2 linked regions of the Homo sapiens genome follow. The protein of the gene in region 2 interacts with the protein of the main gene of each other region in a biochemical or structural test. Each region holds a gene or a part of one and is shown on either strand. Other genes may lie near its edges.

Evidence for each region. The genes of interacting proteins can lie anywhere in the genome.
Region 1: the proteins of ESR2 (region 2) and DDX54 form a complex in vitro, tested with the Homo sapiens proteins (one study listed by BioGRID).

Annotation. Positions count from the first base shown.
Region 1 is NC_000012.12:113,181,917-113,186,835, forward strand, and holds the start of DDX54 (ATP-dependent RNA helicase DDX54), read right to left. Parts: upstream 3,563-4,919; 5' UTR 3,536-3,562; coding exon 3,362-3,535; intron 1-3,361. Other genes in the region: RITA1 (RBPJ-interacting and tubulin-associated protein 1), read left to right, coding at 4,098-4,105, 4,767-4,919.
Region 2 is NC_000014.9:64,276,614-64,281,638, reverse strand, and holds part of ESR2 (estrogen receptor beta), read left to right. Parts: intron 1-1,485; coding exon 1,486-1,658; intron 1,659-5,025.

The DNA.
Region 1 (4,919 bases), on a different chromosome or scaffold from region 2:
TGAGGTGGGTGGATCATTTGAGCCCAGGAGTTCCCAGACTAGCCTGGGCAACATGGTAAAACCCCATCTTTACCAAAAAAGAAAAAAAAAAAAGCATTTACGGAGCAGCAATTCATAAGAGTGGCTGAAACTTACAAGGTATCTACTATAAGCTAGGTGCTGCTCTGAGAATTATACAAATTAACCCACTTAATCCTCACAACAATCTGATGAAGTGGGTACTATTGTTCTGTCCATTTTACAGAGAAGAAAACTGAGGCACAGAGATACAGTGACGTGCCCAAGGTCACACAGCCAGCAGGTAGTGGGTGAGGGATGTGAACCCTGGCTTCAGAGACTGTGTTCTTTTCACTGTGACCCTCTAAGATTAACTACAATCCTCTAGGGCAGAGCCATGGCCTGTCTTGAACAGTCTGTGAGTTTAGAACGGTTTTTACTTTTTAAAGGGTTGTAGAAAAGAAAAAGAAATCCAACAAAAAAGACAGTGATCTTATATGGCCCAACAAAACCTAAAAAAAAGATTTACCATCTGGCCCTTGATAGGTCTGCCAACCCCTGCTCTAGGTACATGAAAACAAGGTGCCTGGGACACACAGGCGCCTGCAATAGCTACTGAATGTATGAACAGCATGTCCTTCAGTCTTCTTCTTTTTTTTTTTTTGAGACAGTCTCGTTCAGTCACCCAGGCTGGAGTGCAGTGGCAGGATCTTGGCTCACTGCAGCCTCCACCTCCTGGGTCCAAGCAATTCTCCTGCCTCAGCCTCCCAACTAGCTGGGACTACAGGCACATGCCACCAGCCCGGCTAATTTTTGTATTTTCAGTAGAGATGGGGTTTCACCATGTTGGCCAGGCCGGTCTCAAACTCCCGACCTCAAGTGATCCGCTCACCTTGGCCTCCCAAAGTGCTCGGATTACAGGCATGAGCCACCACGCCCAGCCTCCTTTGGTCTTTTCAACACTTTTTTTTTTTTTTTGAGACAGAGTTTCACTCAGTCTCCCAGGCTGGAGTGCAGTGGGGCAATCACGGCTCACCTAGCTCAGGTGATCCTCCCACCTCAGCCTCCCAAGTAGCTGGGACTACAGGCACACACCACCATGCCTGGCTAATTTTTGTATTTTTTGTAGATGCAGTCTCGCCATGCATGTTGCCCAGGCTGGTCTCGAACTCCTGGCATCAAGTGATCCTCACTCCTCGGACTCCCAAAGTGCTGGGATTACGGGCATGAGCCACGGCACCGGGCCAACAACCTTTGAAACATATATAATCATTTACTTGCCTTCTACGGATGTGGAAACGGGCACAGAGAGGTTAAGCAACCTCTCCAATGTCCCACAGCCAGTGCAAGGTTGGGCCAAATTTGAACACAGGGCAGTGCCGTGAGAAGCCCTTGGTCTGAACTACACTTAGACTCCTCTTCTTTGGTAATAACCACCTCTGCCCGCCTGTGCTGTTCATTACCTTTAGTAGTTTCTCTACATTTGTTGAGCACCTACTGTGTGCCAGGTACTGGCTAGGCTGGAAGATGAGAGAGGGACAGTGGGATGAGGTCTCTTCTAGTTCCTGCCTTGGAGTGTGATCCTTTCTCTTCATATAAATGTCCACTTACTCATCTTGCCCTGAGCCTACCTGGTGCCAGGCACCCGCTGGGAACAGGACTGTGGGAAATAATGGGCGCAGCCCTTCTGCCCCATTGGTGCTCACACCCATCCCTTCATGTGCATACACATGACATTCAGTAATGGAAACGGCACAGGCCTTGGAATCAGACAGTCTCAAGTTTGAATCTCCTGGCTCTTGTACTCACAAGCTGTGAGGTCTTGGTCAAGCTGCTTTCTCTCTTTTTTTGTAAAGATGGGATCTCCCTTTTTTTTTTTTTTCTTTTTTTGGAGACAGAGTCTTGCTCTGTTGCTTATGATGGAGTGCAGTTGTGTAGCCACAGCTCACTGTACTCTCCGCCGCCCAGGTTTAAGTGATCCTCCCACATTGCCTCTCCAGGAGGTGGGACCACAGGTGGGCGCCACCAAGCCAGGCTAATTTTTATTTTTTGAGACAGAGTCTTGCTCTGTCACCCAGGCTGGAGTGCAGTGGTGCAATATCGGCTCACTGCAACCTCTGACTCCCAGTTTCAAGCGATTCTCCTGCCTCAGCCTCCCGAGTAGCTGGGATTACAGGCACATGCCACCACACCTGGCTATTTTTGTATTTTTAGTAGAGACAGGGTTTCACCATGTTGGCCAGGCTGGTCTTGAACTCCCGACCTCAGGTGATCCGCCTGCCTCAGCCTCCTAAAGTGCTGGGATTACAGGCGTGAGCCACCGCGGCCATCCTAATTTTTTAATTTTTTGTAGAGACGGGGTCTGCCTATGTTGCCCAGGCTGATCTTGAACTCCTGACCTCAAGCAATCCTCCCACCTCAGCCTCCCTAAGTGCTGGGTTTACAGGCGTGTAGCCACTACACCAGGCCTTTGACTATTTCTTAACCCTCTAGGCCTCAGTTTCCTCCTGTAGAAAAATGAAGATGACAGTTGCTGGTGGTGTTAGCACAACGTTGGTGTGAGGATTAAATAATAAGGCTCGTACAGCTCTTAGCATGGAGCCTGGCACATAGTAAACGGTCAACAAACACAAACTGGCCGGGCTCACGCCTGTTAATCCCAACACTTTGGGAAGCAGAAGTGGGAGGACTGCTTGAGGCCAGAAGTTCGAGACCATCCTGGGCAACATAGGGAGACCCCCGTCTCTACAAAAAATTTAAAAATTATCCGGGCGTGGTGGCGCATGTCTGTGGTCTCAGCTACCGGAGAGGCTGACGTGGGAGGATCGCTTGAGCCCAGGAGGCGGAGGCTGTAGCAAGGCGTGGCTACACAACTGCACTCCGGCATGAGCAACAGAGCAAGACTCTGTCTCAAAAAAAATTGTTTTAATTCGTTTCCCAGAGGTTTGGAGGCGTCACACTGTCTCAAGCCACGCAGTCTGGCCTCCCCTTAATTCAACCTCCCAAGAACGCTCCAAACTCTCAAAGTCAGATCTTCTGCACCCGCACTTTTCATTGGGCGAAAGGGAGCCAGGATCCGCCCCACGAGCAGGAGGCAGCCAATGAGAGACGCGCGACCAAAACCCGGCAGGAAGGCCCGCAGGCTCCAGCCCCGGGATCCCAAGGCTCTGGCCGCGGAACCCTGAGCCTGACAAGCCCCGAGACACGTGCTCAGGCCGGCGGTCCCAAGACCGGTCCTCGGGTCGGCAGCCTCCCTCCCCACACTCTGCGGAGCCCAATCCCCAGCTGGGGAAACTGAGGCCTCGAGGCGCTGCCCGGAGCCGGGTCTCGGGCCCGAACATGCGTCCCAGCCCCACGCGCCTACCTTCCGGGCCCGGGCGTCATCTTCCGCCTGGATCTCAAACTCGCCGTCCTCCGAGTCGCTGCCGCGGGCCTGGGAGGCCGCGCCTCGGCGCTTCCGGAGCCCTTTCTTCTTCCTCCACTGGGCCATGGCAGCTCGCGACCGAGGTCCAGCCGCCGGGCCCTTGTCGGCCGCCATTCGGGCCGCGCGCTGGGAACGCAGAAGGGGGCGTGGCCTGAGGAGCGCACCAACTGCGTGGGGGGGGGGGAGGTGCGGTGACCACGTGACCTCCGCTGAGCTTTCGCCAGTGCCTGCGGCCCTCGGCGGCCTAGTACACACGCACCTGAGTGAGTGGCACCAGAGGACCCTCTCCATGTTTAGGGACCTCCTGGGCCTCAGGAGCGTGGCGCCCGCCCCTGGGCGGACTCCCCCCATCCGCGGGCGCGAATGGTCCGGGCCGCGTCCGCAGTGCTGCTGGCTGCTCCCTGGTTGCTGGGTGCAAAGTGCTGGGTTCTGGGTTTCTGGATTCGCGGGCCGTTCACACGTAGCCTGTGCCGGCTCCTCGGGTGAGTCCGTCCGCGCGCGGTGCCCCGGGACGGCCTAGGCTGCCGGGGGTCCGGGGCCCCAGGCATTCCGGGCTGCAGATTGACGGGGATCCCGGATGCACCGCGCGCCCCCGCGCCCTCACCGACGGGTCCAGACCTGGTGGGAAGAAGGTGCGGGGACGGGTCCCTGAGGATCCCGATGCCTACGAGCCAAGATGCTCAGGTAGGAGAACAACCCAAAAATGCAGGGACCTCGGGCACTTTTTAATCGGGTCATTGATTTGGGAGTCGCAGAATGTGGGGCGGTGGGGGCGGCGGTGATCTCCCGATAGCAGTGTAGCCAAGTACACAAGCTCTGGACTCAGATTTCACTTCCACCGTTTTAGCTTTATAGGTGTGACCTACACATGTGACTTCACCTCAGTTTTGTGATCCGTAAAATGGACAAATTCGAAGCTACTTCACAGTGCTGTTGAGAGGATTAAATGAAACAATGCTTGTAAAGCTCTTTGCAGGAGGTAGGCATGGGATCCACGCTGGCTGTCATTGCCCCCACCCCCATCAGTACACATAGGAAAGTGCCTGTCTCCCCTACCACCATAGTGTGTTTTCTGGTTGGTGCCTAAATAGACACAGGTGTCATCTCTCCTTCACCGCCAGAGTCATTCTGTAAATAATTGCCAGTAGCCCCCCTTTCACCACCATTATGACAACTAAAAAAAAGCCAAAGAAATTTCCAAAATGCCCCCTGAAGTTGACAGCTCCCCTTTGAGAGACTGGTTGAGAGAGAACTAAACCCTTGGGATGAGAACTTCAGACACTACCGGTCTTCCTCCATTAGCACTTCTGTGGCTCAGGGGTGCTACTCTGACCTCCTCTCACAGGGAGCCTCGGAAGCAGGGCCTGGCCGGCAGAGCACACCTGCTGTCACCAGGGACCACAGGCAGCATGAAGACCCCCGTGGAGCTGGCCGTCAGTGGGATGCAGACCCTCGGCCTTCAGCACCGCTGCCGAGGTGGCTACCGGGTCAAGGCCAG
Region 2 (5,025 bases):
AGATAAAAATCTAAAAGTACTAAGGGCATGTTGGATATTGAAATTCACTACTTTCAAATATTATCATAAAACTTTGAGACAGTAACATTGCACCATTATTTTTCTTCTTTTAAAAACATTTTACTCATTGGTAAAGAGAATATAAACATTGTGGATAACTTTTTTAAAGTAATGGTTTGTTTTTTTTTTCTCCTTCCTCCTTTAAAGGAAGACATATTTTGTTTCTGAGCATGAATTATAATCAAAGTTCTGCTAATTTTTGGGCAAATTAATCCATTATATAATTACCTTCATTTATAAATCAATAATACCTTTACCATTCCCTTTCCAAAAGAACCATGCCTGGCAACATCAGGAACTAGCCAGATGTGTTTTGGAGGCTGCCTGGGGATCCCTTGTTAGACTTTTCGTTCCTTTATGAACCTCTTGCCTGTGGTCCAGCATTGAGCCTCTGCTTCCTTCCAAGCCTTTCCAGGCCAGGCACTTGCTTGTTCTCTCTCTTCTCTTCTCTCTTCTTTTTTCTCTCTCCCTTTCTCTTCTCTTCCCCCTTTTTCTTGTCTCACATTCATCTCAAGGTAACTTAAAGTCCATTTGTTATTCCTCTTAAAGTTATTTTTATTTTATTTTTTTGAGATGGAGTCTCACTCTGTTGCCCAGGCTGGAGTGCAGTGGCACAGTCTTGGCTCACTGCAACCTCTGCCTCCCGGGTTCAAGCAATCTCCTGCTTCATCCTCCAAAGTAGCTGGGATTACAGGTGTGCACCACCATGTCTGGCTAATTTTTGTATTTTTAGTAGAGATAGGGTTTCACCTTGTTGGCCAAGCTGGTCTCGAACTTCTGGCCTCAGGTGATACGCCCACCTTGGCTCCCCAATGTGCTAGGATTACAGGCATGAACCATTGCGCCCAACCTGAAAGTTATTTTAAATCTAGACCTTTATCTGAAATTGCAGAGTGTGAGATGTTTGTTCTCCATTTAAATGGGAACTTCAAATGTCTGAAGGGCTGCTTAGCAATGCTGTTGGGAATGACTGATGTTTGGAAGTGGTTGAATGCCTTCACACCCATCCATGCAGCATTCGTGAACTCTAGTAACTACAGAAGACCAATGCATATCCTGCCTGTGGTTCAGACCTGTGGGTAAGATTTGATCTGGCCACTCCTTTCATTACACTTAGAGATGTAGCTCCCACCCCATGGCTATGACTGGTCTTCGGCAGTGACAAATGCTCATCAGCATCACGTGGATGGGCATAAACTCACCTACCCACTTTCAAACATTAGTCATTCCCCACAGCGTGGCTCTTTGTAGATATGATATCAGTATCAAAAGCTTTGCTGTATCAGATTTCCGGGAATATATTTACCAGGAACCCTGGAGGAAAAAGAGATTAAATTAGGCAATGTTCATGCTATTTTTTTTTCCTAGAAAGCCCTTCCTTTCCCTTTTATGCTCTGTTCAATGGATATTTTCTTTGCTCCCTAGAGAGACACTGAAAAGGAAGGTTAGTGGGAACCGTTGCGCCAGCCCTGTTACTGGTCCAGGTTCAAAGAGGGATGCTCACTTCTGCGCTGTCTGCAGCGATTACGCATCGGGATATCACTATGGAGTCTGGTCGTGTGAAGGATGTAAGGCCTTTTTTAAAAGAAGCATTCAAGGTACAAGAGAATTGTTAACTGCTTCTTTAGTTTCCTACTTTTGATTTCAAACAATTTTGCAGAGATGACTTGGCAGAAATGTCACTACTGGCCTGTTTGGCACACAAAGTATTTGATGAGCAGTTCAGAGGATCATGTGTGTTTGGAAGTGGGTTGGGTGGTGGGGTGGAATTGCAGATTTCTACCCCAGAACCCCAAGATTATACAGCCAACTCGAATGGGTCTTACCCCTCGTTCACCCACATGGGTGTTGGATAGAAGACATCGAGTTACAACCTTGTGAAGATGTCTCTTGGAAAAAATGTGCTCACAAGGAGTTGCAAAGATTGTTTCTTTCTTTTACTTAAATTTAATATATAGCATGCTTAACAGTCATGATGGTGGGCTGGCTCCTGAGGAAGAAAGAATAAACACATTTTTTGGAAATGGTCAGAAATCAGGAATTCAGCTACAGTGGACTTTGAGAATTGATCTAGACACATTTCTTCCCCTAGGCTAGGAGGGTCTCAGTTCACAATCCCCTTGTTTTCTGGGCTGTGTTTAGATTATTTCCCTAACTTTCTCTAAACGCCTTCTGGATTTTTTTTTTTAAATCAACTTGTTGATGAAAAGAATCAAACTCTGTAAAATATTTGAAGAGATTTATTCTGAGCCAAATATGAGTGACAAATGGCCTGTGACATAGCCCTCAGGAGATCTGAGAACATGTGCCCAAGGTGGTCAGGCCACAACTTGGTCTTATACATTTTAGGGAGACATAAGGCATTAATCAATGCATGTAAGATGTACATTGATTCAGCCTGAAAAGGCAGGACACCTGAAAGCAGGGGCTTCCAAGTCACAGGCAGTTCAAAGATTTTCTGATTGGCAATTGATTGAAAGAATTATTATCAGTAGGAAGCAATGATTGGGTTACAATAAGGGATTGTGGAGACCAAGGTTTTATCATGCAGATGAAGCCTCCAGGTAGCAGGCTTCAGAGAGAATAGATTGTAAATATTTCTTAGGGGTCTTAAAGGGTCTGTTCTATCAGTGATTCCAAAAGGGGAGGGAGGGTATAATGAACCATGTCTGTCTCCCTTGTTCCATCATGGCCTAAACTTATTTTTCAGGTTAACTTTGTAATGCCCTTGGCCAAGAGGAGGGACCCATTCAGATGGTTGAGGGGCCTTAGAATTTTATTTTTTGGTTTATAAACTTCAAGTTGTGCACCCCTGATTTCAAGGCTGGTCAGCTCATCTCCCTGCATGTGTCTTTGCTACACTCCTTCTCTCGTACCAGCCCTGATTTGCTGAAGTCACTTTCTTGCTTACTCTTGTTTTCTCTATTTGCCCCATAACCTGTCCCTCAACTGCTCCCTCCCAGGCAACACCCTATGTTTCCATCTGAAAGCTCCCTTCCTTTTTCTATCAAAGCCCCAATGCTTTGTTCTTTGCCAGTTAAGAAAAGCAACGTTGAGAGAATTCATAGTGTGTAAATGGCAAATAGCAATTTACTAAATTAACTCACCCATTGATAACTCTAAGAGGATGTTTTACCTTAAGCAGAGAAATACTGATAGAATCCAGGATATGGTGAGGAGTGAAATGTTGGTAGTCACCTTCCTACCTGTCCCCTGAAATTCACCCTGTATGAATGGCAGCCTCTTTGTCCTGGATTTTATAATTACTAGCTCTGCGACTTCACCTCCTAGCCTGTTTCCTCCTCTGTGAAATGGAGATACTCATAGGGATTTTCTAAAGATGAAATAAGGTTGATTATATGAAAACATATTCAGTGCTCAAATATTTTATTTGTGACAATCTTAACAGTAGATTATAAGGCCAAGTCCATTTCCTGGCTATATGATAAGAACAATATTGATTTTCTGAAATTCTGAACTGAATTCTTGATACGATGACTATTTTGTATCTTGCTGAGTTTCTAGGATTTTACCCCTTAAGAACGTTTGGACCTATTACTACTAACCATATCTTTTAAAAAGAGATCCTTCTTTTTTTTTTTTGCTTTTGGGGAAACATTGGTCTGCTTGAAACATCTTTGACCCCTGAGACTACAGCTAATAACAATTGAAAGTAAATTTCCTTTGCTTCTCTATGTTGTTTCTTCCTTCCTGCTGCATCAGACAGGAATGTCAAATTCTAAATGTGCAAAGAGGAAAGAGTTAAAGCTGTTACAGTTGTACAGTTGTAGTGCCTAAATGATCCTTTCTTTGCATGCTTCCTGTCTTTGATATAAGTGCATTACAGTAACTGAAAGTGGCCACTTATTTTTAAAATTGTCTCAAATAGGCCAGGATGGTACAGTATTGAGAAATTCCTTGCATGTAACTTTTTTTTTTTTTTTTTTTTTTTTGGAGATGGAGTCTCATTCTGTCACCCAGGCTGGAGTGCAGTGGCACAATCTCGGCTCACTGCAAGCTCTGCCTCCCAGATTCACACCATTCTCCTGCCTCAGACTCCCAAGTAGCTGGGATTACAGGAGCTGGCCACCACACCCTGCTAATTTTTTGTATTTTTAGTAGAGACAGGGTTTCGGCATGTTAGCCAGGATGGTCTCGATCTCCTGACCTTGTGATCCGCCCGCCTCGGCCTCCCAAAGTGCTGGGATTACAGGTGTGAGCCACCGCACCTGGCCCATTCTTATGTTTTTTATAATTTTAAACTTGTCTTGCTAACTTGATTTATAAGCTAATTGACCATATCTTAGTCATGTACCTGTCCCCTTCACTGTACAAATGCACTGGAAGCTGTGTTGTGCTTGCTTTTCCATTGATACTTTGTTGGCTTCTTCACACAATGAGTTGCCATCAGAGTGATAAGTGCTGTTGTTTCTCTACTGGGTTATGGAGCACAGAGGAAGGAGGACATAGGGAGAAGGACCTCATCACTTCATCTGGTCCAGATGACAGCATGGCTTATTTTTTGAGCTTATCCTTTACTTTTTGTTCTCTTTCCTATTGGTGTTCATTTAACAAATATTTATTGAGCATTGTACCAGGCTCTACGGATGCAGTGGTGAACAAGACAATAGATTATAGATTCCATGAGGGCAAGGATTTTTGTCCATTTTGTTCACTAGTGGCACTTACCAATTCCTTGAATATGATTTTTCAAAATTAATTGGGCTTATACACAGAGTTCTGTATCATTTTTCACTTAATATTGTCGTATAAGCATTTCTGTTGTTAAATTTCCAGAGACCCTTTTCACAACTGCACAACTGTGTAATATTCTATCTTATGATCAGATTTAATTTATTTAACTCTTTATTATTGAAGGCCCTATCAATTATTTTCATTGTTTTAATGCTATGGTTACTTTATTTGTTCATGAAGTTTTGAAAAAAATAAGTTTCTCTGGATATG